Linked DNA regions of Homo sapiens: regions 2, 3, 4, 5 and 6 are each reported to be linked to region 1. The links are microRNA targets in miRTarBase. Many come from high-throughput screens and were not tested one by one. Region 1 holds a microRNA gene; each other region holds the end of a gene's coding sequence.
What was found. The annotated mature microRNA hsa-miR-4748 reads GAGGUUUGGGGAGGAUUUGCU and lies in region 1 at 3,087-3,107, shown strand. An mRNA with a match to its seed (bases 2 to 7 or 8) in the 3' UTR can be bound and repressed. Matches are read on the target gene's strand: a 7mer-m8 pairs with bases 2 to 8, a 7mer-A1 pairs with bases 2 to 7 and ends in A, and an 8mer does both.

Region 1 (5,074 bases):
AGGGACGTCTTGGAGAACAAGTTGCTCCCGTTGAGAAGAGGTGTGGCTTTGGGGGTGCTGGGGAAGCAGGAGGATGGGTGGGGTCCTTATCATTACTGAAACCCCAGCACCTGTTCCCTGCCTGCCTGGAAGTCATTGCTTCTCCATTTCACCGTAACTCCTTCTTTCTTTTCCCTTTGAGCTATGTATCTTTTTCTTCTGATTTGTATGCATTCGTTTTTCAAGTGCACAATTAACACCTGCTGGTTTCTGAAACATTAGAAAACAAGTGTATAGAAAGAGGAAACTAAACTCACCCGCAGCCACACTTCCCCCAGACAGCCACTGGTGAATCTGCAGCTCCCAGCTCCCCAGGGTTTATAACTTTAATTAATTTTTTTATTACTTTCTATTATGAGCCTTCCCTTCCCTTTTCCTTTTCCTTTTTGTTTTTTGAGACGGAGTTTTTGCTCTTGTCACCCAAGCTATAGTACAGTGGCACAATCTCAGCTCACTGCAACCTCCGCCTCCCAGGTTCAACTGATTCTCCTGCCCCAGCTTCCTGAGTAGCTGGGATTACAAGTGGGCACCACCACGCCCAGCTAGTTTTTGTATTTTTACTAGAGACGGGGTTTCACTGTGTTGGCCAAGCTGGTCTCAAACTCCTGACTTCAGGTGATCCACTTGCCTTGGCCTCCCAAAGTGCTGGGATTACAGCCATGAGCCACCGCACCCGGCCTATTATGAGCATTTTCAAACATTCCCAAAAGTGTGGAAAAAAGTTCAAAGAATCCTCGTGGATGGCTTCCCCAGCTTCGGTGGTTATTATTATTATTTTCTTCCTGGAATATTTTATTTTTTCATTTTATTTATTTATTTATTTATTTATTTATTTATTTATGAGACGGAGTCTCTGTTGCCCAGGCTGGAGTGCAATGGTGCAGTCTGGGCTCACTGCAACCTCCACCTCCCAGGTTCATGCCATTCTCCTGCCTCAGCCTCCCGAGTAGCTGGGATTACAGGTGCCAGCCACCACGCGTGGCTAATTTTTGTATTTTTAATTGAGACAGGGTTTCACCATGTTGGCCAGGCTGGTCTCGAACTGCTGACCTCGTGATCCACCCGCCTCGGCCTCCCAAAGTGCTGGGATTACAGGTGTGAGCCACCGCACCCGGCCATCTTCCTGGAAGATTTTAACACAAATCCTAGGCACTGGCTGGGCGAGGTGGCTCACGCCTGTAATCTCAGTGCTTTGGGAGGCTGAGGCAGGAGGATGCCTTGAGGCTGGGAGTTCAAGACTAGCCTGGGCAACATATCAAGTCCCTGTCTCTACTAAAGATTAAAAAGTTAGCTGGGCATGGTGGCATACACCTATAGTCCCACCTACTTAAGAGGCTGAGGTGGGAAGATTGCTTGAGCCCAGGAGTTCGAAGCTGCAGTGAGCTATGATCACACTACTACACTCTAGCCTGCACAACAGAGCAAGATCTTGCCTCTAAAAAAAAAAAAATTCTATAAATCCTAGGCATTGTAGCATTTTACACATAAATACCCACATTTCTTTTCAAATACTTCCCCTTGCCATCCCATTTGTTTTTTTCTATACCATTCATTTGTGGAAGAAACCAGACCACATCCCACATTTGGGATTTGGCCAATTATTGTTCTCTGTTAGCTGGTAATTAGATCAGGTTCAGGTTCAAGTTCAGGTACAGATCTTCTGATAGGAGTAACCTAAGTATTTTTTATTTTATTTTAAAAATATTTTAAATATTTTGGGTCGGGCATGGTGACTCACACCTGTAATCCCAGCACTTTGGGAGGCCAAGGCAGGCGGATCACAAGGTCAGGAGATCAAGACCATCCTTGCTAACACAGTGAAATGTTGTCTGTACTAAAAATACAAAAAATTAGCCAGGCGTGGTGGCACACACTTGTAGTCCCAGCTACTCGGGAGGCTGAGGCAGGAGAATCGCTTGAACCCAGGAGGTGGAGGTTGCAGCGAGCTGAGATGGCGCCACTTCACTCCAGCCTGGGCCACAGAGCAAGGGTCTGTCTCAAAAAAAAAAAAAAAGAAAAATTTTTCAAGCATTTTATTTTATCGGAGCAGCAGTTTTAGGTTCATAGCCAAACTGAGAGGGAGATACAGAGATTTCCTATCAGCCCTATAGCCCACACATCTGTAACCTCTCCCACTTTCAACGTGCCCAGCAGAGCGGTGCATTTGCTAGAACTGATGAGCCTGCGTTGACCCATTGTCACCACCCCACCCCACATCCATGGTTGACATCAGGGTTCACTCTTGCTGTTATAAGTTTTTTTCTTTCTTTCTTTCTTTCTTTCTTTCTTTTTTTTTTTTTTTTTTTTTTTTTGACGATGTCTTATTCTGTCACCTAGGCTGGAGTGCACTGGGACAATCATAGCTCACTGTAGCCTTAAACTCCCAGGCTCAAGTGATCCTCCGAGCTCAGCCTCCCAAGTATTTGGGATTACAGGCATGTGCGATTGCTCCTGGCTAGGTTTTATTTTGTTTTGTTTTATTTTTTTCAGACAGAGTTTCATTCTTGTTGCCCAGGCTGGAGTGCAGGGGCACAATCTCAGCTGACTGCAACCTCTGCCTCCTGAGTAGCTGGGATTACAGGCACTCGCCACCACACACAGCTGATTTTTGTGTTTTTAGTAGAGATGGGGTTTCACCATGTTGGCTAGGCTGGTCTTGAACTCCTGACCTCATGTGATCCACCCGCCTCAGCCTCCCAAAATGCTGGGATTAAAGGCATGAGCCACCGTGCCCAGCCTTCTTTTGTGTTTTTTTAAAGCCATTCCTCCCCTCTGGCATCTACTCTAAGCTGCGGGCACCTCCTGCCTTTCCCTTCATGCTTAGCCGCAGTCATTTAGAGCATTTCTTTTACTCCTGGGTTTTCCACCTCGATGTCTGAGATAGATGTGGGGAAAAGTTCAGACCTTGGTTGCCAGCATCCCCCAGCACTGCTGAGATATTGAGTGGTGAGGCGACCCCGGATCCCAGGGGAATGCTGTCAGGGCTAAATTCAAAACCCTGTTTAGCTGTGAAGATCCGGGGCTGAGAAGCAAATCTGTGGCTGGCTGAGGTTTGGGGAGGATTTGCTGGTGCTAGAGAGGAAAGCAGACCCTACCCAACCCCACGCCCTACTACAGCCACCCCGACCCGGCTGCCCTTGGACACTGTTAGGCCTCCATCTTGGATCCTAAGGGCCTTTGGGGTCTGTGGGCACTAGCCAGGCTGAGGATTTGGTGATATGGGCCTCTTCCCCTTCCTCCTGACTCACTGATGTCCACAGCTGCCCTTCTCTGCCTTCCTTCCTGTTTCTAAGAACGAAGGCGCTTCCACTCTCAGCTCACTTGTAGGCCTGCTCCCGTTTTGTGACCTCAGGCTTCAGAAGCCCTCCCACTGGACCCTTTTTCCTGGCGTACTAATGACTCACAACTCCTCCTCCTTTACGGGAACCCAGGCTAGGCGTGGTGGCTCATGCCTATAACCCCAGGATTTTGGAAAGCACAGTTGGGAGGATGGCTTGAGGCCCAGAGTTTGAGACCAGCCTGAGCAACACAGCAAGACCCCATCTCTCTCTTAAAAAATTATCCAGGCTGGGCACAGTGGCTCACGCCTGTAATCCCAGCACTTTGGGAGACCAAGGCGGGTGGATCAAACCCCAGCTCTACTAAAAATAGAATTAGCTGGGTGTGTTGGTGCATGCCTGTAATCCCAGCTACTCGAGAGGCTGAGACATGAGAATCGCTTGAACCCAGGAGGCAGAGGTTGTAGTGAGCTGAGATTGCACCACTGTACTCCAGCCTGGGTGACAGAGTGAGACTCTGTCTTTAAAAAAAAAAAAAAAAAAAAAAATCCGTGTGTGATGGTGCACGTGCCTGTACTCCCAGCTACTCAGGAGGCTGAGTCCGGAGGATGGCTTGAGCCCAGGAGTTCAAAGCTGTAGTAAGCTATGATTGTGCCACTGCAATGCAGAATGGGCAGCAGAGCGAGACTCCATCTCTTAATTAAGTAAATCAAGCCAAATCCAAGCCAGATGCTTTTTACTGGCCCCTGCTGTTTCCTTCTTTGTGCTGTCACACAGGTGATGGTGACTCTGGCTTCACAGGGATCTAGGTTCAGATCTTGGGTCTCCTACTGTGACCTCACCTTGGCATGTCTTCGTTTCCCTCCTCCCTCTTGGATCCAAGAGAGATCTGGCGAGGATGAAGAGCAGTCACATCCCACAAGACCCTACAGGATAGATGACCGGCACCTCTCCCTTGCTTCTCAAGAGAAACATGCACAACCCCACTACAAAGAAAAGGGAGCACAGGCCAGGCACTGTGGCTCACGCCTGTAATTCCAGCACTTTGGGAGGCCATGGCGGGCAGATCATGAGGTCAGGAGTTCGAGACCAGCATGGCCAACATGGTGAAACCCCGTCTCTACTAAAAAAACAAAAATTAGCCAGGCGTGGTGACGCACGCCTGTAATCCCAGATGCTCAGGAGGTGGAGGTTGCAGTGAGCTGAGGTTGCACCACTGCACTTCAGCCTGGGCAGCAAGAGTGAAACTCTGTCTCAAAACAAAAAACCCCACAAAACAAAAACCTAGCCAGGAGTGCAATGGTAGGCATTCCACTTGGATTCTTTGCAACAGTGTGTATTGAATTATCCAGCTTTTCTCCCCCATATACTGAAGCGTTAACTTTCAGTTCTACCTCCTTCTCGGTGTAGTTTTGGACTTTCTTTTCAGTTCCATTGATCTCTCTGGACATGAATACCCTGATGTACCCAACTGTTTAAAATATACTCGTTTGATAGTGGATTTTAGCTCTTCCCTATTGCTCTTGTTTTTAAGATGTTATTTCTTTTTTTTCTTGTGAGACAAGGCCTCGCTCTGTTGCCCGGGCTGGAGTGCAGTGGGGTGATTACAGCTTGCTGCAACCTCGAACTCCCAGGCTCAGGTGATCCTCCCATCTCAGCCTCCCAGGTAGCTGGGACTATACACGTGTGCTACCACGCCTCGCTAATTTTTGTATATTTTTGTAGAGATGGGGTTTTGCCATGTTACCCAGGCTGGT
Region 2 (5,074 bases), not on the chromosome of region 1:
CTAGCAAACGCTCTTCATTATAAGAAACAGGAACGGGCGTAGGCAACTGTTCTGGGAAGTCAGGTTACCTCCTGGGCCAGGGCAGGACATGGCCCAGGACCCTGCCAGGGGCCCCGGAAGCCACCTCCCCACCGTGCCTCATCTCCCGCCCTCCTGGGCGCTGGGTCTCAGCAGCAGCCACACTCCCCCCTCAACCCCACCCACTCCCCCTGCCTCCTGGTTCAAAACTACGGGCCCTGTGACCAGCCAGAATCTGTGAGGCCCAGAGTAAGTTCCCATGAGGGAGAAGCTGGCTAGGGCAGCCTAGGCCAGCGCCTAAGCTGTCCCTGCAGTGGTCAGGGCAGGGGGGTTGGGGGAGGGCAGGCAACCCAGAGTGAGTCCATCAGCCTAGAGGGTCCAAGAAGAACCTGCGTGCCCACCAGGCTGCAGGGCGGGCCTCCTGCAGGCCGCGGCATGGAACAGCTGGGATGCCAGCGCTGGGTAGGGGGTGTGGAGGGGGTACCTGAGCTGACGCCAGAGGGCCCAGCCCCTGAGGAAGGCCGAGGGGCAGACGGGATGCAGACTTCAAGGGCTACTTCGGATTTGTCCTGGGGACAGTGGGGGAGCCCTGGTGTGGGGGGGCGGTCTCTGAACACAGGAAGGACCAGATGAAGGCCCCACAGGGCTGGTCACTACCAGCAGCGCCCACGAGCTCCTCTGGGGCAGGAGGACCCTGGAGCTTCTCCCTGTGACCCGGCCCCGCTCTTCACCCGCAGAGCACCTTCGGCCTCCAGGTGCCTTTCTTCTTCTTCGCGGCCATCTGCTTGGTGAGCCTGGTGTTCACAGGCTGCTGTGTGCCCGAGACCAAGGGACGGTCCCTGGAGCAGATCGAGTCCTTCTTCCGCACGGGGAGAAGGTCCTTCTTGCGCTAGGTCAAGGTCCCCGCCTGGAGGGGGCCAAACCCCCAGTGGCTGGGCCTCTGTGTTGGCTACAAACCTGCACCCTGGGACCAAGAGGCAGCAGTCATCCCTGCCACCAGCCAGAGCACAGGAAGAGCAGTGTGATGGGGCCTCAGCAGCGGGTGCCCCTGGCTCGGGACAGGTAGCACTGCTGTCCAGCCACAGCCCCAGCCCAGGCAGCCCACAGTGCTGCACGTAGCCATGGGCCGCAGGAGTGCATACAACCCTGCATCCAGGGACACGGCCCTGCTGGGTGACCTCAGGCCTAGTCCCTTTCCCTTGCGTGAAGGACACGCCCCACAGAAGGCTACGGGGAGGACTGAGAGGACAGGGCTGGAGGCAGCCAAGTAACGTAGTCATATCATCGCGCTCTGATCTGGTGGCATCTGGCTGTGCAAGGAAGACCCGGCTTTGCCCTCACAAGTCTTATGGGCACCACAGGGAACATCCTGGACTTAAAAAGCCAGGGCAGGCCGGGCACAGTGGCTCACGCCTGTAATCCCAGCACTTTGGGAGGCCAAAGCAGGTGGATTACCCAAGGCCAGGAGTTCAAGACCAGCCTGGCCAACATGGTGAAACCCCGTCTCTACTAAAAAATACAAAAAAGCTGGGTGTGGTGGCACACACCCGTAGTTCCAGCTACTTGGGAGGCTGAGGCAGCATTGCTTGAACCCGGGAGGTGGAGGCTGCAATGAGCTGAGATCATGCCATTGCACTCCAGCCTGGGCAACGAGAGTGAAACTCCGTCCCCACCCCCTGCCAAAAAAAAAAAAAAAAAAGCCAGGGCAAAGGACCTGGCGTGGCCACTTCCTCCTGCCCCAGCCCAACCTCTGGGAACAGGCAGCTCCTATCTGCAAACTGTGTTCACCCTTTTGTAAAAATAAAGGAACTGGACCTGTAGTCCTAGCGAGGAAAGAGTGGGGTCTACTCCAGGAGCCCCCACAGCAGCCAGGCTAGACCCGAACCAGCCAAGGTTGCCAGGGCCACTGACTGCTGATCCATAGCAAAAGCAGGGCAGGGAAAAGGCTGCAGTGAGGGGAAGCCCACTGCGAGGCCCACCCTTAACAGGCTCTTTCTAGCTGTGTGACCTTGGGCAGGTCACTTTCCTTGTCTGGGATGCTGGGGGCAGCCTCGGGACAGGACCTGTAGTTATTTCCTGGGCCAGCGGCTCCTGCCTGGCTTCCACACTCACACACAGGCACCAAGGCAGAAGGGAGCAGAGGGCAGGCACGCGAGCCACGGCCACGCTTTATTGCTTAAGACGCACACAGAACACAGAGGAACAAACAAGGAGGAAAGGGCGCCACACACAGCCCAGACCAGGCAGGAGCGGCCCAGCCGCCGGAAGAGACGTTCCTTGCAAGGCAGGGCCCCTGCTGGACAGCACGCCCCCTGGGCGACAGGGTCAGGGACCCCAGGACTGCACAGCTGCAGACTTGCTGGGAACCTGGGACAGGTGACACGCCCACTCTCGCCTGTGGCCCAGGGCCTTCCACCTCTGCATCCAGCCATGCACCCACCATTTCCCCACAGGGTACAGGGGCAGCCTTCCTTGATCCACAGCCAACCCTTCTCCTGCTGTCTCTGGCTGTCAGTGAGACCCCTCTGGAAAGGGCAGAAGCAGGCAAGCCAGGCAGAAGGGGGCCCGGGGTCCCACTACCTGGGTAGGAATGAGCAGAGGGCGGGCAGAGCCCTTGCTCCTTGTGGGAGGTAGACAGGTCTCACTGCATACATGGGACAGATGTGTGCACCCACACACATATACATACACACACACACACACACACACACACACACACACACAGCCCTTTGAACCCAGCACTGGCCTGAGGAAGGTGGCCCCGGAGGAACCCTGAAGGCACATGTCCACCAGGCTATAATGCCCCTGCCACCCTGGGGCTCAGCTGGCCAGACTCCCAGGGGTGGGATGCTGCTGACCCAGGAGCCCACCAAGTCCCCAGGGCAGTACTGGGCAGGGCCCAGAAAACCCCACGCCCAGCCCACCAGCCTGCCACTCCTGGCCTCAGATGCCACTCCCGGCCTCAGATGCCACTCCCAGCCTCAGACGCAGATGGGCCCGAGAGGTGTTCCTGGGAAACAGTTCACTTAGCAAGACCCAGTACCTGCGCTCCAGAAGCTCAGCGCAGGCCCAGCCTGGGGTTGGCCCCAGATGGAATATCTTCCACACCCGCCCGCTTCTGCCAAACCCCACCTGGGCTAAGCCAGGCCCGACCAGGCACCTGCCCGATGGCTGAGAGCCAGCCTCACGGTCAGAGAGGCCAGCGGGCTGAGGCCACAGGGCAGAGGGAATATGGGGGTGCACATCCTGGGCACCAGCTCTCTGCATCCTCCCTGGGTAGGCCTGGCTCCGGACAGCCTGGCACCCAGGGCAGTGGGGACAGCTCTGTGTGGGGAGGTGACTGTGGCCTCTGCCCAGTTCTTAAAAGGCAGAAGCTCCCTGAGGGCAGGGCTTGGGCAGGCCAGCAGGAGCACCTGAGTGGGGCTGAGGTCAGACCCACTAACCCACTAATGGGGCTGGGCTGTGGCTGATGTTGACGGGGCCACACCAGGGAGAGGGTGGGCACCCTCGGTGCCAGGGAGAGCCTGCTCTCCCCACTTCCTTAGCACCAAGGCCAGCAGGGGCGGGGGGTGATGGGCAGAACCTAGGGGCCCCAGCAGGCCCAGGGAGGAGGGGCAGCCGAGGGGCCTTGAGGTGGCCTGTCCAAGGTTCCCAGGGCCAGCAGGGAGCATCCCCCACCCAGCTGTCCAGTCACTGCCAAGGCTGCAGTTCCAGGTACCGGGGTGCACCTTAGGAGCCCTGTGGGCTTCTTCAGAAGGCAGGGTGACAGTGGGCGCTGCACCCTAGGCAGCAGTGGGAGGTTGCTGGCAGCGGCAGGCTGTCCCAGGCCCTGGGGCTCCACCTGCTAAGAGAGCTGGGGGAGGTCCCTCTGCTCAGTGCCCAGGTGGCAGGGTCCCACTTGCCCCTCCCCTCAAGCCAGGACCAGCATCTCCAGGGGAAGCTGCTCCCAGGTCACAGCAGGTCACAGGCAGCCCTGTCTGTGGTGTGAGATCTGCAGACCCACCCAGCAGAGGAGTAGGGCTGGGTAGTGTCCACACAGCTGCTGCAGGCTCTGCCTCAAGTCCAGCAGCCCAGACCCTCACACCAGCAGCCAGTGGCTCCTGGCTTAAGCCAGTCTGGAGAAAGGAGCAGAGGACTCCAGGTGTAGGGACACGTGCAAAGGCCCCTCTCCAGGCTGTGCCTCAGCGTGGACAGTCCAGGCCTCACTTGGACCCACACAGAGCCAGAAGAGGGGACAGGGAGGGAGGGGCGCCCAGCCCTTCACAGCTCCCCCTCCAGGGTCTCCGCGAGCTTCTCCTCATCCGCCTGCTGCCTCTGCTGCTGGATCCTGGCATAGGAGATCGCATCGCCCCTGGGGAGAGAGAGAGGCAGCGTCACGTGGAGCACCAGCCCCATGCCCACAGCCCTCCTGACCACTGCCCGGTTCCTGCCCTGTGACCCAGGTGTGACCTGCAGGCATTCTGATTTCCCCAGAGACAACTGCTGGGGTGGCAAAGGCCTGTCTTGTCCCCTCTGAGAATGGCCCAGGCTCCCTGGGATGCTGGGCTGCGAAGGAACCAGCCTCAGTCTGGGCTCTGCAGGAGAGAGGGTGGCAACTGAGTACAATGCCCGGTGCAGACCTGGGAGGGGAAGGGGCTCCCACCAGCCATGTTTTTGCTATCCTTGCTGCAGGCCGTGACGGGGCAAGACTGGGCCACGCAGAAGTGTTGTAAGTCCTCTGTCTTCACCCACTCGAGCTGAGCCCTGGAGGCACCAATGAGTTACTGGGACCTCTGCCTCGGTCTCCACTAGCTAAAAGGGGCCACTCTCAGATCCTCCTCACTGAAGGACTTCGGGGGGCGGAGGGAGGAAGGCCCTGCCCAGGGGCTGGGCCTGGCAGACGCACTTTTTGCCCAGAGCAGAGAGTCCGTACAGCACCCCCGTAGCAAAGGCGATGGCGTTGCCCAGCAGCGTGGTCAGGGTCAGGCTGATGACGATGGGAACGACCGCCATCCTGGGGGGAAAGCAGAGGTCAAGGGGGCACTCCGGCCCCACAGCCACCACATCCTTCCCCGCT
Region 3 (5,074 bases), not on the chromosome of region 1:
TAGGTACCTTTAATAATGAAAATGAAGATACTGTAGAAGTATATCAAACCTAAGAACACTTTCCCAAAGTACTCTTAGGTCGGAAATGAAGACCACTGCCTATGGCAGCATTTCCTCTTCTTGGCAGAGGCAAAGTAAAGAAATAAATCCCAAAAGTCACTCAACAATTCTCAATATATTCCATTTTGAGTTGCTATTTAAGTTGAAATGAAAAATTGTACATTTATGTGCTAAAGAACAGAACAATTATTACAATATAGACATGTACAGATTACTTGTTAGATGAATTTAAACAAAACAAGTTAGTTGAAACTTAACTGAAAATTTTTCCCCTTTCAGTCTTTGTGGTGGGAACGACGGGCTTTTCCACTGAAGGGTGAAGACATGGCAGCCTTATTATGTCAAGATGAAAAAAAGGATCAGGTTGAAAGGTCAAGCACAGCTTTCCATGGTGAAATCTTCGGTACCAGTGTACCAGAGAATGGCCACCATCCAAAAAAGCAGTCAGATGGAATGGAAGAATACAAAACCTTTGGTCTAGGACTTACTAATGTTAAAAAAAATAGGTGACAGGGAACAGGTTAAGAAAACTATGTAAATGTAGGAAAGATGGGAGGAAATAAAGCCCTGTTCTGGATCCCCCATCCCCTCCAGAATAAGAGCATGTTCTGCATGTATTAATCTTTTATGCTGTTTATGAAACAGGCAAGATAAGTCTGTTTTTCCTTCTGGAACCATAAGGGTAACCAGATTTTCATCTACAGACAAGTGGTAGTCATTTGTGTTTATCATGCAACTTACTTACAAACACCAAGATATTAATTGCTGCAACTTGATGTCAAATCACATTACTGGGTAATTTTTAAGACTATGTACCCACACCATACATACATACATATATATATACACATACATACAAACCTGTGTGCCAAGTGACAGCTATTTTTTTATATACATGGTAATTCATTAAAATTGCCTTAGTAATATATTAGAATATACAAATATGTGTGTATAAAATAAACATACACACACACACACACCCCTATGTAGTTTTTAAAACACTGGCAATGACCCACTCCCCTTGGAAATGCATGTATGAACTACCCTATGAAATGTAAGCTGCAGAATAGATAAAACACAGGTTTCCACTAATAAAAGACATCTGAACGTCCTGAATATAGAGACAGAAGTTTTTTGTTGTTGTTGTTGTTGTTTTAACATGTTTAACCAACAGAAGTTATTTACAGAAATTCATATATCCAGGCAACACAAAACTCCTTTATTCAAAATCACTGCTATCTTTGGGACTAAACACAGGCTACTTTCTGTTTACTCCTAACAAAATAAAGCAAGCAAATTTGAGTCAAATATTGGTGCACTTTAATACTATCACATCTTTGAAAACTCAATTTGAGTTTTACCAATTAATGTGTCTCATGAAGAGAAGACACCAGTTTTAAAATGAGCCACAAACAGTAAAGCCCTATCAGTATAAAATTTGAAAAAAAAAAAAAAGATGATTGTATTTCTAGATTAGCAAGAAATTAGTTAATTCTGGCTGATTTCTATTTCTAGCTAATTTGGTCATTCTTTGCCATAGCTTACTCTATTCAAATAAACATATATTCTTGCTTGCATCCTAGATTGGAAATTAAAATTTTTCAAAGAACAAAGCTTCAATATTGGATACTGAAGAGTATACATGAAAGAAAATTCCTTTTGAAGCTATTAAACCATTTTTTTCCTATGTGAAAGTTGAGGACAATTTATATAACTCACTTTTTGTCATGTAAAAAAGGTTACTCAAGTTGTACTACCCACATAACTGAAAATATTGGCCATTTGGCCTTATCTGTGAGATTTGACACTAAGTTTTTGTTAGAGATTGGAAATTATACTAGTCCTTTTAAGGGGTAAAAAATTCAATTCAATACTGACAAACTTTTGCTTGTAGTTTTACTGTACATTTATTTTTAAAGAAAAAGAAAACAAAAGCCAGACAAACCCAAGTTGTCCAGGCAAATAAACTCAAATCTTTGTCACGTCTGATATTATAATCTTCTATGTAAGTTTTTTAATTAAAGTTATTTCTATATGCCGTGTGTTGCTTGTTATTAAATGCGACGTATTCATGGCACAAAGCTTTCCCAAGCTGAATAAAAACAAACATTAACAAATTTTTACCTTGTAATGCAGGAAGAAACCCAAGCAAGCTCTAGTCTGTGCTTAAGTGTTAGCATTCTTATTTTTTGAACCTTATTTCTCAAAACTTATAGTAGCCTCAAGAAGTCTATTGATATTGGTCATGTTTATTTCTTGCCATATTTATAACACAGCAAGAGTATTTACAGGAATGAAGTAGCTGACACATATTTTTAGACTCTGTATAATTCAGAACAGTTATAAATATTTAGTTTATGGATTGACTCTGTATCCTGTCATCTTTTCGCCTACCTGATCTTTCTTGGAATAAAATAATATATCCTTGGGGTCAAGATCCATAGTTCCAGAATTTTCTCAGCCATCTGGTTCTGCTACAGCGTAAAATTAGACTGGAAATAAGACAACGTTAAGTAAAAAGCTTCTTTTACCTAACCCACCTCCCAAGGGCTCCATTTGTAAAAGTACAGACCAGAAATTCTACCACTTCCCAGATCCTTTCCAGGGTACCACCCTATTAAGCATTAATTTCTTCATTTTTTAAATGGGGACAAAAATATCTGCTTTATTATTACCACTTACTTATAGAGGTGATTTACAGATTTAATGAGAATATATCAAAGTACTTTATAACTCACAAAAATATAAACTTATATAATGCTGTTTACTTTGTGTTGAGCATATTCTAAATTCTGGGACTAGTACTGGAAACTTTACATATATAGTGTTAGCTCTTAATTCTCAACAGAACCCCACAGTTGCTATAATTACATTTAATGTATAAATGACTTTAGAGAAACACAAAAAAGATTGGGTGATTTGTTAAAGGTCCAGCTAGAAAGGGGCAGTCAGAATTCAACCCAATATTACCTCCAAACAGAGGTTTTACTTTTTCCTTTCTACTCAGAGCTAACACAACAGCATTATTTAACGTTCTTAAGAATGGTGGGGAGGAATCACTGAATAACCTGCTTTGACAAAACACCCTGATAAAATCTATGCTTGTATTTTAGAACCCCTGGGTTTCACACATTGTTTTTATAGTTTTCACACATCAAGTGTAAGGTGAAAAGTGATAGATTTTAAGAACCAAGAATATGGTATGCACCCCACCCAAACTTATAAACAAATCACAATAACATGAAATAGAAAAAAACCATAAAGACTTCCTTTGCTTTTGGAAAACAGCTGAGAAACAACAAAATTCTTTTCAGAAGTACAGACAAAATTTGTTTTTGTAGTGTAGCTAATATGCCCTCCTTAGACATTAAGACACTTTTCTGTTTGTAACCCTAATGCAGCCGTATTTTTACTTTATAAAAATCAAATCTCTCAATAAAAACAGTATCTTACTCACTAATCAATAAATTGCATCACTAAAAATGTAGTTATACACACCAATTTCTGACCTCTTAGAATATTCTGCACAATCAGTTTTAATCACTGGAATGAATAACTGCTCAAAAAAGCAGTACGGCTTCAATTGCATTGTGATTTGGTAGTCAATATTCCTGTTTTCCAGTAAAAGGGAGATTTCATGAACAGGAACACTGGGCTCCTTATGGTTTCACCGATCAAGAGAACGTTTCTGAGCAGCTTCTGAGCAAACATTTCTTAATAGATTGATCACAGATCTGGGGTCTTCACTCCTCATAATAGCACTGCCAGACACAATCATGTTAGCTCCTGCCTGGAAGAAGTAAACAGTTAGGTTATGCCTCAAAGGAAAATGTAGAAAAACCTAAAACAGAATTCCTGGACTAGAGTGTCTACCCTTGCATCTGTCAACATTTCAATCATATGAGAGCCACTTTGAGATTAAGCAGACTTAAGCAATCTAGTTCAATAAGAAAAATTTAAAATGTTCACAGATGAGGATGTCAGACTATTTTTAAATGTGTCTAAGAAATCATTGACCTTTCTGGTAAACCAACTCTTAATAATCTACATGGTATCTTTGCGACCTTTAGATAAGGTTTAAAAGCCTTTACTCCTCAAGTCCACTAAGGTTTTTCCCAATATGCACCAATGCCTCTACAGTTACTAAAAAAACACTTTTATTCTTTGAATTATATTTATATGAATTTGTGAGTGTGAAAGGACAATTATTGCTAAAAATGTAAAATTATCCATAAACTACGGCAAAATTAAGTGAGTTCTCGTTTTTGTGTCAAAAAATAGAATGTCTCTTTATACTTCATTGCATTTCAGAATGGTTTTGAAGTGGCTTTAAAAAAGTTTTTAAGATACATTTAAATATGGAAGCAAAGAAATTGAAAAAGAAAAGCTAAAAAATTGGGTCCAAATTTAACTCTGATCTTCCTAGGATCTGATTCAAGGATGGAAACCCAATCTGTTTTGTGATTCATTGCTAGAACAAAGAGGGAGAAGTGGGAGAACCACAGGCTGAGGAAAATTTTTCCAGACAGATAGTGTCACTTCATGTATGACAACATTTCTAACAATATTCCTCACAGAAATTATAAAGGTGAGTTTTATAGGGTTAACACTGCAAATATTCTCTTCAGTTAACCCATTTATGCCTAGTGTTCCATTATTGGAACGCTAAGCTTGTGGGAGTTCTTCATATCCTGCTGTTTAAGGTCATCGCCAAGGTCTGATTTTTCACACAAAAAATTTGCTACCTCTGGCATAAAAGCAGGAATAGTATACTGGCAAAGCACAGTTTAGTACAAAGCAATTCCACAAGCGATCAAAAGGATATGAGCTCACTCATCATCTGGCCAGCCCCTCCTGCATAAGTATTTACTACTGTCAAGCTTTTGATAGGTATATATCAAGCAGAAACGTGTGGCAGTTATACAAGAACCTGGAAGTAGATACATCACACTGTGGAAGAAAAGCAGTCATGTAAGCTTTAATCACTTGCAGTGCTACCAGAAGGGCTGGCATC
Region 4 (5,074 bases), not on the chromosome of region 1:
AATTCTCATGCCTCAGCCTCCAGTGTATCTGGGATTACAGGCATGTGCCACCATCTTAGCTGGTTTTTTTTTTTTTTTTTTTTGTATTTTTAATAGAGACAGGGTTTCACCATGTTGGCCAGGCTGGTCTCAAACTCCTGGCCTCAAGTGATCCACCTGCTTCAACCTCCCAAAGTGCTGAGATTACAGGCGTGAGCCACTGCGCCCAGCCACGAGGCTACAAGTCTTTTCTGGTATGTCAGGTTTTTATAGGCTGAACACCGCCTTTATTCAGAAACAATGAGCATGTTAATTAAATATTTATGCTGATTCATTGAGTGTAGTGCATTAAGTTTTCCCCACTTGTCAAAACTATTGACTTAAAAAATATTTTTCTTGAAACATTTTGTGCAATTTAGATTTCCTCATTTGACAGGAGCCTTTTTTCAGGTGAATCAGATTTAGTGAGAATAAAGTTCTTTGATTATTTGGGGAAGACATGGTAGATACTTTGAGTCCTTGCTCTCAGTCTGAGTGATGTAACTTTAAAGCTGTCATAAAATTAAATGTTTGTTTGTTTCTTTTTTTTTTTTTTTAAATAATTACCAGGGCAAGAGCACTTTGAACACAGCTGGGTTTTCTTCTTCACAAGCTCCCAATCCAGTAGATGATGAGTCATGGGATTAAAGCCAAAACATCCTTCAAGTCTGTGGTTTTGATGCAGAGAAGAAAATAGTTTTGATTTTTGAGTTTTTAACAGAAGTATAAAACTTAACATTCTCATAGCTCCTGTCCTTGTATTCTCACTCCTACACTTAAAAAAAAAATCCTTACTGACTAGTTATGTGAGATGCTAAAACTTACAACATTGCAGTTACTGATACAAATGGTGTTAACTGGGAATATTAAAGCATTCTAAATGTCTTTCTTATTTCTGGTATATTCTTTAGGGGGCTTAGACATGTTTAATGTTTAAATGCCAAGTCTTACTATAGTGTTTATTGATCTTATAAAACAAGCAAATAGGATATGATACACTTTTGGTTAAAAATTACTGGGTCTCATTTTTACTTGAGTCTTTAAAACAGTAGTGTGTCACTATAATGTGATAATCTTTAAGAGAAAGTAGAATACTTAAGCCTTTCAAAGTGATTTTGATTTTTAGATCATCAGATGTATGATGAAAATGGTTAAATGTTTGTGATGGGAGCTCTGTACTCAATGGCATAACAATGTTTATTTTTATAATATACAATCTTTCCTTGAAATAAAGGATGAAACACTTTTCCCTTAAGTTTTCCATCAGCACTTTAAATTTTTCTTTGTTGCATATCCTAGCCCAAACTCCTATATTTTTGAAACTGTTTTTTTGTGTCTTGCGTAACCAGTGCAGTGAACAAAGTCTTACATAAATTAAATATTAATGTATAAACATTACTGCACAGATGTGGCAATGAAAATCAATCTTAGAACTCAAACCCGTTTATCAACAAAAAACAATGCTGCTTACTCTTTCCATAAGTTTTTGATTCATATTTTAAGATTGATGAAAGAACCCTGTCTTTCTTCATTTTCCATTATATATCTTGAACTTACTATGCCTAGAATAATGAAGTTCTTTTTTTTTTTGAGACGGAGTCTTGCTCTTGTTGCTAAGGCTGGAGTGTAATGGCGTGATCTTGGCTCACTGCAACCTCTGCCTCCCGGGTTCAAGCAGTTCTCCTGCCTCAGCCTCTCCCGAGTAGCTGGGATTACAGACACGCGCCACAATGCCCAGCTAATTTTTAGTAGAGACGGGTTTCACTATGTTGGCCAGCCTGGTCTCGAACTCCTGACCTCGTGATCCGCCCGCCTCCACCTCTCAAAGTGCTGGGATTACACGCGTGAGCCACCGCACCCAGCCCGAAGTTATTAATTAATTGTTAAATGAACGAACCCAAATATTTAAGACCCAGTGAGGTGTAAATACTGGGGAGACAAAAATGATTGGTATTAAGTGTTACTGTTCACCTAAACAATCCAAAGTGACATGTCCCTGATGTATATCTTGTTATAGGAATTTAGTTAATAAATGAGGCATCACATATGAAAAAGGAAGGCATATCAACAGATAGTGTTAGAATAACTGGGTAGATGCCTACCTCATGCCATATTTAAAATTAACTTCATGTGAATTATAAAATATTAAAGCTAATAGTTAAATATTAACCCTTTGAAGGGTTGACTTTAAGCTAAGGAACAGAAATCAAAAAAGAAACAACAGATTTGATCACTCAAGGAAAGATTAGTTGCCTACATAAAAAATAGTGAAAAGTAGACAAGGAAAAATATTACTGTGACCACAGTGGTTATCAGTGTTCTTTATATGTGGATATACTAATAGAAGAATACAAAGAACATAGAAACTCAAAAAGGGCACCAGCATGGCACATGTATACATATGTAACAAACCTGCATGTTGTGCACATGTACTCTAGAACTTCGAGTATAATAATAAAAAGAAAAAATGTTGACAACAAGAAAAACTCAAAAAGGGAAGTTCAATTAATAAAAATATGGGACATATTTCACTTTTCTTCTGTTATCTCACTTCTGGGAAAGGCTAAATGAATGAAGGTGTTTGGATTGTTATTTGTAATATCTGTATGTCTTAATTTTCTAGTTTCGTTTAGGAAGAGTATAGGCCAGTCTTGTCTCATTTTTTTCATTGCTTTTTTTTTTTTTAACAGATTGCTCCCTCTGAACTGATTCCTTTTAAGCTTTTGCTTGATTTGTCAGATTACCATAGTAGCATTACTGAATCAAATATAAAAAAGGAAAGGAAATGTATCATACATCTACCACCATTACAGATGAACTGTAAATGTCCCTATGTTTAATTACTCTCCTCATTTCTAGGTATAGGTTTGAATCATCTCTTTAAAAATTATCAAAGTAACATGCATAAATTAGAAAAGAAAATGCCATAGAAGCATTTATAATAGAAAGCAATATTTTTCTGCCCCTCCCCTTCCAAATTGCCATTCCACATCCAACAATCAGCTATTATTAACAATTTCTGTTCACTGCCATCATATACAGGTTGAGTATCCCTTATCTGAAATGCTCGGGACCAGAAATGTTTCAGATATCAGATTTTTTTTTGGATTTTGGAATATTTGCATAATATATAATGAGAGATCTTGGAGATGGGACCCAAGCCTAAACATGAAATTCATTTGTTTCATTATACCTCATATACAACTTGAAGATAAGTTTTGATATTTTAAGTAATTTTGTGCATGAAACAAAGTTTGTGTACCTTGAGCTGTCTGAAAACTAAGGTGTCACTATCTTAGTCACATGTGGACAATCTGAGGCATCACATTGGTGCTCAAGGTTTCAGGTTTAGGAGCATTTGGGATTTTGAATTTTTGGATTAGGGATGCTCAACCTGTATTTTTATGTCACCAACCAGAACGTCTGTTGACTTTGATATATGAAGATTTAACTCACATCTCTGACTCGCCGTAGAAGTATACCTGTGAGATGATTTTAAAGGCACCTTTTCCTTTCCTCTATTTGTATGTCATAACATCTGTAAACTGCACATTTACATTTCCCAAGTTAACATTTGCATTTTCTATAACCATAAAGTCTCCCTTATATACACAGATTCCAGAATTGAAAATCAAAAGCATGTGTTTATATAAATATTGTTCACTGGATGGGCCAATTCACACAGTCTTGATTGCCTCACCTTTACTATCTTCCTAATTTTATGACTTTTGTGTCTGCAGGGAGAATGGGAAGTGTCAGGGTCAAATGAAAACTGCCCAAAGCCATTCCACATACCAGCTTGCTTTGAATTTGGATCACACAATTTTTGAGCAATTTGTTTACCCTGTTTGTAGTGTTTTTTTGTTTTGAAGGAGACAGATCATGCATTTTTCATATTACCTTCCCAGGTTTGATGTTAATTTTCTTAAAAGATCCCAAAAGATATTGGTTGTCTTCACTTTTATGATGAATGCGACTTGTGTGTGATACTCAGGGTGCTTTGAAAATTGTTTTTTTTTTTTTTCTTGGTCCCTAGGAGTGTTTTTTGTATTTGATAATTTTTTTCCCAAGTTTTCTCTGTTCTCTATTTTTGGAGCTTCTATTAGATTCCAGAACTGAATTCTCTATTGTATCTTTCCTGTTTTTTTCATCTTTTATATTCTAGTATATATTTTTTACTTTCAACCGTTTTATTAGCAATTGTTTTTAATTCTCCAGAGCTCGCTTGCTCACTCTATATATGTTTAAATGTTGCTTAATAATAGTGAATTTTCTGCTTTACTAGTGCTTTTTAAATTCCTGGAATTTAACCTAAGAAATCATGTCTTATGTTGATCATTTGTTTTTCTGCTGCTTGGTGTCAGATATCTTAACCCTTGATCATTTTATAAGTTGTAGGTACACATGCTTCTCAATTTACAATGGAATTACATCCCGATAAACCCACTGTAAGTTGAAGATATCAGTAAGCCAAAAATCCATTAAATACACCTAAACCTGCTGAACATCATAGCTTAGCCTAACCTGCCTTAAACGTGCTGACAACACTTACATTAGCCTAAAGTTGGGCAAATTCGTCTATAAAAAGCCGATTTCATAATGTGTTGAATATCTCATCTCATTTATTGAATACTGAAAGTGAAAAACTGGTTGTATATGGGCACTCACCATTAACGTACACAGCTGAAAGCACACTGGGCCAAAGAATGTTTGAAACATCTAGAATTGCTGGATGACAGGGATGCCACGGTGACAGGGCAATCAATTTCTCTTCTGGTGAGGCTCAAGAATAAGCACTTGGGCATCCACACAGAATGCTTTAGCGTTTGGGTGGTTTACACTCGTGGTCTCATGGCTGGCTAAAAGCTGTGTCTGGCTGCTGCTGCCCATCATCACAGTCTCCATCCACCACATACTGCTAGCCTGGGAAAAGAGCAAAATTCACAGTACGATTTCTGCTGAATGCATATCGCTTTTACACCATCATAAAGTCAAAAAGTCATGTAAGTTTAACCACTGTAAGGGTCCGTTAGGTATATTTAATGCAACTCAAGAT
Region 5 (5,074 bases), not on the chromosome of region 1:
TCCTGGGCTCAAATGACCCTCTCGTCTCAGCCTCCCGAGTAGCTGGGACTACAGGTGCACATCACCACATCCAGGTAATTATTTTACTTTTTGAATCATGATATGTAGCAACCAATCTGGGAATTATTTATTCATAAAAGATAACATTTTCCTGCTAACTCCAACCTCAGAAAAAATGTATTATGCCTGACTCAAATATGTCATTATTTTTATGAGAAAAAGAGTCATATTGAAGTAATTATGTCTATATGTAATAATTATCATTATTTGAGATAATTTGCATTGGGGAGAAAAGCAGGCAATCAGAAATTACATATTCAAGGCTGGGCGCAGTGGCTCACGCCTGTAATCCCAGCACTTTGGGAGGCAGAGGCGAGTGAATCACCTGAGGTCAGAGTTCAAGACCAGCCTGACCAACAAGGAGAAACCCCATCTCTACTAAAACAAAACAAAACAAAACAAAACAAAAAAAGCCACAAAATTAGCCGGGCATGGTGGCACATGCCTGTAATTCCAGTTACTCGGGAGGCTGAGGCAGGAGAATTGCTTGAACCTGGGAGGCAGAGGTTGTAGTAAGCCGAGATTGTGCCACTGCACGCCAGCCTGGGCGACAAGAACGAGACTCAGTCTCAAAAAAAAAAAAAAAGAAAGAAAGAAAGAAATTACATATTCAGGTTCTAGCAAATGCAGTTCTCTAATAAACACTAAATAAATCATAATACAAGTTACAGTTAAACCTAATTGTTTTACTATATAGGATGTATCTTTTTTGTACCTATATTTTATCTTCCTTTGCTTCTCTGGCCTCTATTGGGAGGCAGCACGGTAGTGAACACCTCGGGGATCTTTCTGGTTACGTAAACCTGAGTTTTAATTTTGGTTCATACTACCTTTTAACTTTGGGTAGTCTGCTGAGCTTGTTTTTTGTTTTCACTCATCTGTCATATCAAGCTAGTAATAATTCTGCCATGGTTTTGGTTTTCATATTGAAAGGCATTACATAAGCAAAATGCATAACATATAAATATTAGTTCCCTTTCCACTATGCATCCAATCTCCCTATTAAATTAAGCCTAAAAATAATAATTTTTGTTTTATTAAAAGCCTTCCACATTCTACATATGAAAGGGATTTTTTAAAGGTGTTTTAGATAAAAAATGTTTCAACCAACTGACCAAGAATATCTCTTCATATTTATGTCATCTACATAAAAACTTACATTTATATCATATATCTTTTAGTCTTCTTTTCTATATTCTTGATTGTCATGTTGTACAGCCAGAAAAGAATGAGTATAAATTATCTAGATTTTTTAAAGTGCACATTCAAACATAGAAAATCTAATTATTTTACTTGTTTCTTAGTATTAGGCTGAGGCCAATGAGTCCATGAGCTAAAGGGTTGAAACTTGGCACCAAAAAAGTGATTGTTTATGAGTCCTGTAGATTTATACTGAGAAAACATCATGTCTTCCAATGTGAAATACACTAAAACCTGATTTTTTGTCTCTTAAGGTGTGCTAGGTGAATGCAAAAAGGATCAGGAAAGGGGGTGAGGATAGGTCAGGAAAAGTGCAAACACAATGTTCTATTCATAAATTAGTGATGGCATATTTAAGGTTAAGTAGTAAAAAATATGGGGGGCTCAGTTAACACGAATGAAAAAATAGTTAAAGTAGCCATGAATTATCTGGATACCTTGATTTAATGACACCCTTTCTTCTGTACAATTTCATAATGTGGGAATAGAGATTAGTGGGGATTGTAGTGGTATACCCTGACTTTGCTTCATGATATCTCAAATGTTTAAAACCTATTATTCCCTAGAGAAAGAAATATGTTCATACTAATTGTTGCAGAGGCAGAAGCCAAATATATCTCCTCCTCCATTTATGTGACTATATAGTAATGAAAATCCTAGGTTGATACACTTTTCTCAATCTTGGAAAGATTCTGCTAAAGCAGCAAATCTTCTAACAAGTTCAAGAGGGTGGGGAGAGTGAACAAGTAGAATAATTTATATTACCCTGGAACAATTCTGAATCCTGTAGGTATTTATGTCACTGTTTCAATTGTGTTCTGGTTTAACTGTCAATATTTATGCATAGCAGTTAACGTGTGTGCATATTTGTAACTGTGCAGTGCTACTGCCAGGTGTGACTGTACAAATCATGTGCTTTGAATGTGCAAGTTTTACTTTCTTTTCTAACAATTTAATACAGTGTTAGAAATAAATAACGAATGAAGACAACCAAAGAGCAGCCAGACAAATGTGAACTGGTTTTGACGTGACGAGAAACTCATCAGTAAGTAAATAAACCTCCTCCCTGGAGAAGGCCACTGAAATGCACCCAGGAGGATGTCTCTACTAGAAGGTAATAAAAAATATATATAATGTAGTCTTTGACCTAAAACCTCATGATTATTACTTTGCCATTTATTTCCCCCTGGTATCTGATGTTCATATTAGTTTAATGTGCCTTTTCAGAGAATTCAAGACACTTTTTGGAAAGTAGAATTTTTTTTTGAAAATTTATGATTGGAGAGGTACTACACAATTTAGAGGTTACATTTCTTGACAAATCTGAGTTGAATAAAAAAGAACTAAAAATATAAACATAGCTAATTCAAGAATCAAGATCGGGTGAAACTAAATTAAAAACAGCCATAAAGTCCCACATTTTCCCTAATTTATTTACCTATGATATTGGCACATCTTGTTTTACTTAACATTTGAAAAATACAAATATCTCTTCATATGCAAAAGAGCAAATGTTAAATGAAAAACTGAATTTTATATAGCTTCCTAAATATGAGCCACATGCTTAAGCAGTGAATTAACTTTATGAATCAAATGTTTAATGTTAACTATTACAAAAGCCTGGTATCCAGGTGCAATCTCACCAGAAAAAAATAGCACCTGCCTTTATTACAATAAAAAAAATGGCTAATTCCCTTTGACATCTTAAGAGTGACACTACTTTGTCAAGCACTAAATACTTTTTAAATTAATCATGTTAAACTTCAGATTTATAGATATAAATATTGTATTTATAACTTTAGTCATAATGTACAATTTCTTTCTTGTTTAAAAGTACTTTCTCACTCAAAATGGTATTTATAGTTTAAAAAGAATATGCCTCTGTATTCAGGAGTGATTCAAATTCCCAGATGTTTTCACATAGTTATGAAAATGGGAAAGTGCTGAATTAAACTGGGCTGCAATATTTCAAGTTTTTTGCTATCAGGTTATAAACTATACCTACGATTGCAAGTCATACAGTGCCTCTATTTCTAGAAGGCTTTTAAAGTTTCCTGGCTTAGTTATGTCCAAAGGCAGCAGGAAGTCTCATCAGTAGAGGGCAGAATTTTCAAGTGCTGCCATTCTTATCCCAGGAGGCATTTCCAGTGGTTGAGCACAAGGCCTGTTTGTAGTTTGCTTTTGCTCTTGCATTTTGTGGAAGGGAAGGAACTGAGAGAGCTTAGAGGGTTCATTAAAACCACCCCTCACTCTCTTAGTCGTAGTCAGATGGAGTATTCATAACAGTAACCTCCAATTACCACTATGTGTTGGGAAAAATTAGAATTCGGTCTACTTACAATCCTGCCAACTAGGATTTTACTTTGATATTTCAGTATAACAGTGAATCTGGATTGATGCCTGATTAAAATAAAATCCCTGATTATTACTTTCTGGATTACGAACTAAAATCCCTGTAAAATCAATGGATGTGACTCATTGTTAAGAGTCATGCAGACTTTTACATATTAGGTAAGAATTCTAAAAATTATTTGAGGGTTCTATTCTCTAGCACCAGGTACTAATGCTCCCTACTCAAAAAAAATCATGTGCATGGATTAATCAAGTCTAACAGTGCTCAGATTTAATGGTTTAACATTGATTTTCTTTTCTTTGTCAAACTTATATATGCAAATATTTTTATAGTAGTCAGATGTTATTTTTGAATAAGGATCACCCTCATTTTTACCCATGTGCTTATCTTTAAAACCAACATTGTAAAGTAGCACGCAGACATATGTTTCTTTTATCTTCATGGATTATTTTTACCTTAAAAATAAATTATCATTTTTTTTTTTGAATTTGGGTTTTATTCTCCAGATACTCTGTGTACATGTGGGTAAGTATGTGGGAGTATGTGTGTTTGTGTGTAAGAGGGGATAATTAATTGTCTCTCAACTCTATCTCATACTTTAATATCAAATAAAAAATGAAATGTATAAAGGGTCACTTTGTAGGATTAGGCATCCTCCTTCTACCTACTTAAACCAGGGGTTTGGGATTCAGAATTCTCCATATAACCAAGACCGAAAGTCACTGGAAGACTTTAAAATTAGTATTTTAACCACCACACCCAGAGTCAGGTATGGAAATAAACCTATAGCATGGATTCTTTCTATGCATAATCTCAAAATTTAACTACCCAAATAAGTAAGTTTTTAAAAACTAATTTAAAATTTGCCATTGAGGAAAATATCACCTCCATCCTTAATTGTGACTCCTCATTTCAGCTAAAACCTTTTCTAATACTTTAAAAAAACAAAATGAAAAACAAACTCCTAGATAAAGTCATAAACACTGAAATCAGAGATGTGATTCTTGTTAAATGTTAGTTTCTCTTTCTGAGGTTACACTCTGTGCATTTGAAACTTTGACGTTAACATCTTCCGAATGTTTAGATTTGCTCAAGGGTTCAGATTCTCTGGTCTTCTGCCTTGCATTTTCCTCCTTCCTTTCCTTTGCAAGCAATCTATAGTTGATAGCATTGCCAATGAGCAGCCACACGCTTGCTGCTACCACAATAGCCCCACAGGACATGTACATGTATTTATATTCTCCAGTTAAATCCACCAATTTACCTAGAAGACAAAGAACATCTTTTAAGTTGGCATAATAAAACAGTCATATAATGATAAAAATTCAAATAAATTATTCTTCAAAGTATATTCCTCTTATTTAAATTAATGTCAAATAAGACTTTAAAAATAAAAAAATCTAGATTATGACTTCTACATATGCTTAGTAAAGGTATGCAGAGACACTTACAGTATTATAT
Region 6 (5,074 bases), not on the chromosome of region 1:
AGCAGGGTGGCCAGCCCTGGGGACTAACACCAGGTTCAGACTCCCATGGGAGTCCCAGAGCACTGTATGCATCTCTCTGCGTGTCTGATTTAGTGCCTGTCTCCCACAGTTGCAGATCCTTGAGTGGAGGGCCTGGGTCTTATTTATTTCTGGCCCTGGTCCTCTACCTGGGGTTCTGGGTCATGTTGCCAGCTGAACAAATGGCTCTTAGTTGAATGGCTGAGTGTTGAACTCTGCTGTAAAACCCAGCAGCTGTGCCATGCAGCTCCCTGTGTAAAATGGGAATGCTCATTGCTGCCGACCCGTTATGCTGTTACCTCCAGGTGGTTGTGTCACTGGTGAGTCAGCAGCTCCACCTATCTTCCCTCTTCTCTTCCTCAACCCCACTGACTCCAGGTGTTCCAGAAAGTGGCTGCTGAGAAGAAGGGCAAGGTGCAGGTCTTCTTCTGTGGCTCCCCAGCTCTGGCCAAGGTGCTGAAGGGCCATTGTGAGAAGTTCGGCTTCAGATTTTTCCAAGAGAATTTCTAGCCTCACCTCTCCAAGCTCTGCCCCAAGTCCACACCATGGGTCTGCTTCATTGCATTAGTATAAATGCCCCCACAGGGACCAGCCTCAGATGACCCACCCAATAAGACAAAGCCTAGGGACCCCCTAATCCTGCTCAACAGAGAGAACAGGAGACCCCAAGGGGCAGATGAACTTCCTCTAGAACCCAGGGGAAGGGACAGTGCCTTGTTCAGTCTGCTGTAGATTCTGGGGTTTCTGTGAAAGTGAGGGAACCAGAGGCTGGTCACGGGAGCTTGGGGGTGGGGTTCGAGGGGGCAGAGGGCAACCACTCCTCCAAACATTTTCCGACGGAGCCTTCCCCCACATCCATGGTCCCAAACCTGCCCAATCATCACAGTCATTTGGAAGCTTATTTCTCCGGCATCTTATAAAATTGTTCAAACCTACAAAAAGTGAGAAGAATCATACAGTGAACAGTGTTACCTACTTTCTAGACTCCTCAGTTAATAATTTGCTCTGTTTATCACATATTATCCATCAGTTCCTCCTCCCTCTTTCCATCTGTCAATTTATCTGATTTTTTGGATGCATTTTCAAGTTAGGTGCAAATATCTCAGCACACCTTGCTACTTGGAGGAGCCTTCTTCAAATGCACATTCCTTGGTCCCACTACCAGAAATTCTGATTCTGATGATCTGGGAATGAAACCTGAAATATGTATTTTCCACCAAATCCATTTGCATAGGGAGAAATAAGCAGCATCTTTCCCTGCCCCTCCTTGTGTCTTTGTCTCCCCATCTCCCTCTCTCCTGGCGCGTCCCTCAGAGCCTCTCTGGGCTCTGTATGCTGGCCTCTTCCTTCTCTCTGTGTGCTGAGTCGCTTGAGAAACAGGATGGAGACAGCCTCTTTGTGTGCCTCTCTCTGTCGTGGAAAGGCCAAGTGCCTGGGGATGAAGCGGGCTAAGCCTGGAAGCTCAGCTCAGCCACACTCTGGCTGTGTGGCCCTGGAAGCTTCCCCATGTCTGTTATTTTCATCTGTGAAATAAGCTGATGCCATCCGTCAGTCACAGTTGCTGTGAGGTGACATGAGACGCCAAGTGCTCAAGACATTCCACCTCAGTTCAGCTCCTTGCTGCTCCAGGCTTTCGTGCATCTACATCATTTCTCTTTATCCTGGCTCCCTCTGTCTCTGTTTTCCAGCCTCTGTTTGCGTCTGTCCCTGTCTGGGCAGGAGGGAACAGCAGAGGCAGCAAAGGCTCTCTCAGCACATACTGTGGGGAGGAGCGGCCCTGGGCAGAGGACAGGGTGGGCCTCACCTCCTCCATCTGAGCTGGACATTTCCATCTGTGCCACACCATGAGCTCCTGTGAGCCCCACATTTCCTGGGCATCCTCCACCTTGCAGTCAGTCCTGATAGGTTCTCTTCTTGACAGTGTAAAGCACCCTTCCCCAAGGCTGCCATCATGGGGTTGGAACCAGGCACTTTCCAATGGGATTGTAGCTGGCACCTTTCTTTTCCATGGGTTGGAAGTCCATGGTTGCAAAGGGGGAGGTAAAGAAGCCGGATCATAACCTGGATGATGATGTCCCTTATCTAAGGTGGGGCTGGGATGCAGCAGTAGGGGTGGGTGTGACCTGCAGGGGATGAGCCAGTTGGGTGGATGGAAGAATGAAGGTGGGGGAAAGCTCTCTTCTGAAAGGGGCAATAGGAAGGGGATGGTGGAGGAAGACGCTGAGGCAGGCCCTGGGAAGGGGAAGGCAAAACATACCCTGAGGACTGGGACAGAGCAGGATGGGAGTGAGGATGTCATCTTTAAGATGTGAGGAGGAACGGGAAGAAGAATACGAGAGGAGGAGTGGGGCCTGCAGTCAAGGAGAGGCTAATTCGGTTTGGGTGGGTGGAAAGCGGGGCTCGTGCTTGCACCAAGCCTCCATCTCCCTGGACTGGGAGTCAGCAAGGCCAGGAGACCTGGTGTTGGGGCCTTCCAACCAGATCGTGTTTAATTTCCAGCAAGCCTGGGGAGGCACACAACTCACCAGGGAAACTCACACCTGGAGTTTTACCAGCCTGAGGCCACACACTCTTGGAACCTCTTTCCCTCTGTTGAGTCTGTACTTTCCCCTCTTCATCAGGCTTGGGAAGGCTTGGACAAAACGCTCTCTGGGGCACAGAAGGAAACTAAAGAGGGTGTTCTGACTTAAGGTTGGAGGATGTAAACAGGCTGTGCCAAATCATTTGGAAACGTGGCAGAATCTGTTTAGCACAGGATGTCTCACACATGCACTCAATGCACACACACACATGCATGTCACCGTTTTGGATTCTTTCCCATCTCTGTCTACACCGCCTTAACACATTTGAGCCCTGCCCTCAGTCCTTTGCCCTCTCGTAACAGATTTCCACCAGGCTCCCACCCGCATATACAAATAGTCAGCTGTTCGTTTAGGACTTAATAATATAGTGGGTGGGAGCAGGTGGAAGGACTTGGACATACGATTCTAAAATCCGTGAATGCCCACATGTGTGACGACCATATGCCCGTGTCCTGAGGTTTTCTCTCCAGACAGATTCCAGTTGCCCACGAGAGGGCGCTGCAGAATCACGGATCTCAAGCGGGTTTGTTTCCCAGGAAGTGAGACTGGTCCGTGAGTGGCAGTTAATCAAAGGGAAAGGGGCTGGGAAGACAACGCCCTGTTCCAAAGCTCCCCACTAGAGGCAAAACCTCCAGGCTCCATCTCTGTGAAGTCAAGAGACTTCATGTTCAAGGTCAGTTTCTCTAGCTGGCAGCTTCTCACTGCCGCTGCCTTCCCCCAGAAACTCTACCCTCCCCATACCCAGTGTCCAGTTCTGGGCTTTCCTCTTTTCTGCTTGCAACAAAATGTCCATCGGTGAGGTCAAGTTGAACTGAACAGGCCTGGCTTGGGGAGAGTTCACAGGTCCAGGTTCTGTCTGCCTCGGTGGACATGTCATCGAAGGCAGCAGGACCACACATGTGAGTGTACAGCACGCATGGTCTGACCATCTGGATGTTTCCCAGATGTGCAGATGGGCATCATCGGCCATCAACAGGAAAATGCATCCGGATGACTGGCTGACTTTTCTTCTCTCACCAGATGTTGCCAATGCTGTAGAAACATCTGGGCCCACGACAGATAAGGCTGACACATGCAAAGAGAAGAGAGAAGGAGCAAGGCCAGTTATCGGCACGTGTGCCCATCCTCCCCCATGAAGCTGCAAACTCCCCAAGGCCAGACATGGGGACCCAAAGCCTAGCACAGAGTGTAGACCAGATGTCGGTTCCTCCCAGGGCAAGGGGTTACTTAAATGGAATTATCCTTACAAAGAGTCTTTTGCACCTAATTGTCACTTGTAATTTGGGGAACAAAAGCACAAACACAAGCCCACTGAACCACTTTGCCAGGTGCCATTGCACTGTTCTGTGAGGACAGCGCTGACGGAGACAGCAGGCATTCCTGAAATGACCAATCAGGCAGGGCCCTCCTGGACGAGCGGCACAAGTGCAGGCTATTAATACACTGAGCTGGGGCATTCGTGGGAGGGGAGGGGGCATGGGCAACATGGAGAGTCACCAGGCTGGCAGACAAGGTTGAAGGTAGGGAGGGATGAGGAACATTAGCCGAGACTGGCTCTGGGCCAACCTGTTGGAGACACAGTGGACAAACCTTTGCCCTCTGGGAGGCAGGGCACTGAGTCCTACACTTGCCTCTGCCACAGTCTGCTGTGTGACCTTGGGTGTATCATTTGACCTCTCTGAGTTCTCACTTTCTTATTATAAAGTGAACAGATCAAGTATGTATGCGTTTAAGCACTTGTCATTTCTAAAAGGATACATGAAAGTATATTTATCTGTGTGCTCTGGGGAGTGGGAATGGAGGGATACAATGAAGGAAAGGATTTTGTGTTTTTGTTTTTGTTTTACTTTTTGCCCTTCTGTAAAGTTTAAGTTTTTATTAATATTATAGTTTTATTTTAAAAAGAAACCCCAAATAGGATGTCATGTAAAAGAAAAGAAAAAACAAGTACCAAGTGTTTGATATAATCCTATTTATAACACAGAAAATAAATGACATATGTATATCATGTGGGGATAAATAGATAAAAATACACGGAAAGACAGTTAGAAGCCAGCCTTAATCTGTCTTGGGCCCAGACAGCCCTTATCTGTTGGGGGCCCAGATGTGTCTACAGCATTGTTAACATCTGGTGAAAGGAGAAAAGTCAGCCAGCCATCCTGATGCGTTTTCTTGCTGATGGCCGATGATGCCCAAATGCTAAGCAGTTCGCAGTGGTTAACTGTGGAGGAGGCAAAGGAGGACTTGAATGTTTTCCTCTTATCTGTTTCCTGTATTTGTGTGTTACCTGAGTAAGGTTTCACTTCCTGTATTACTCATGTGATATTTTACTTTTTAATTTATGTACTTTTGTATGGCTTGTATCTATTTTTTAAGAGTAAAACAAAATGCAGAGATTATCTGCAGTGTTGTCTAAGATCCTGAATATTGATTTGGTATCAAGTGAAAGTATTTCGGGCCTAAGCCAGGGGACT

Region 2: miRTarBase lists SLC2A6 as a target of hsa-miR-4748. Seed matches in the 3' UTR shown: 7mer-m8 at 971-977.
Region 3: miRTarBase lists KANSL1L as a target of hsa-miR-4748. Seed matches in the 3' UTR shown: 7mer-m8 at 917-923.
Region 4: miRTarBase lists DDX4 as a target of hsa-miR-4748. The part of its 3' UTR that is shown has no 7-base or 8-base seed match.
Region 5: miRTarBase lists SLC16A7 as a target of hsa-miR-4748. The part of its 3' UTR that is shown has no 7-base or 8-base seed match.
Region 6: the mRNA of NOX5 is a reported target of hsa-miR-4748. Seed matches in the 3' UTR shown: 7mer-m8 at 883-889, 8mer at 946-953 and 7mer-m8 at 4,186-4,192.

The regions. Positions count from the first base shown.
Region 1 is chr19:10,777,177-10,782,250 of GRCh38, forward strand. MIR4748 (microRNA 4748) reads left to right here and starts at 3,078; the gene lies at 3,078-3,159. It overlaps DNM2 (dynamin 2), which reads left to right. Exons shown (of 21, transcript NM_001005361.3): 5 at 1-40. RefSeq lists an enhancer at 179-528.
Region 2 is chr9:133,467,858-133,472,931 of GRCh38, reverse strand. SLC2A6 (solute carrier family 2 member 6) reads left to right here. Exons shown (of 10, transcript NM_017585.4): 10 at 756-1,838. The coding sequence ends at 911. It overlaps CACFD1 (calcium channel flower domain containing 1), which reads right to left. Exons shown (of 5, transcript NM_017586.5): 4 at 4,904-5,011; 5 at 2,084-4,369. The coding sequence ends at 4,279. LOC124902295 (a long non-coding RNA gene) reads left to right here and starts at 4,365. Exons shown (of 2, transcript XR_007061831.1): 1 at 4,365-4,460; 2 at 4,690-5,074. RefSeq lists a silencer at 3,338-3,457 and enhancers at 3,918-3,967, 4,038-4,087, 4,168-4,327.
Region 3 is chr2:210,018,445-210,023,518 of GRCh38, reverse strand. It overlaps KANSL1L (KAT8 regulatory NSL complex subunit 1 like), which reads left to right. Exons shown (of 15, transcript NM_152519.4): 15 at 340-2,098. The coding sequence ends at 570. RPE (ribulose-5-phosphate-3-epimerase) reads right to left here. Exons shown (of 6, transcript NM_199229.3): 6 at 1,259-3,850. The coding sequence ends at 3,728. Among named protein-coding and RNA genes, the nearest start is that of KANSL1L-AS1, 8.9 kb to the left of the region's middle.
Region 4 is chr5:55,815,875-55,820,948 of GRCh38, forward strand. DDX4 (DEAD-box helicase 4) reads left to right here. Exons shown (of 22, transcript NM_024415.3): 22 at 589-1,283. The coding sequence ends at 666. Among named protein-coding and RNA genes, the nearest start is that of IL31RA, 33 kb to the right of the region's middle.
Region 5 is chr12:59,779,226-59,784,299 of GRCh38, reverse strand. SLC16A7 (solute carrier family 16 member 7) reads right to left here. Exons shown (of 6, transcript NM_001270623.2): 6 at 1-4,877. The coding sequence ends at 4,621. Among named protein-coding and RNA genes, the nearest start is that of SLC16A7, 190 kb to the right of the region's middle.
Region 6 is chr15:69,056,169-69,061,242 of GRCh38, forward strand. NOX5 (NADPH oxidase 5) reads left to right here. Exons shown (of 16, transcript NM_024505.4): 16 at 397-5,074. The coding sequence ends at 528. SPESP1-NOX5 (SPESP1-NOX5 readthrough) reads left to right here. Exons shown (of 17, transcript NR_033672.2): 17 at 397-5,074. Among named protein-coding and RNA genes, the nearest start is that of EWSAT1, 22 kb to the right of the region's middle. RefSeq lists an enhancer at 3,813-4,312.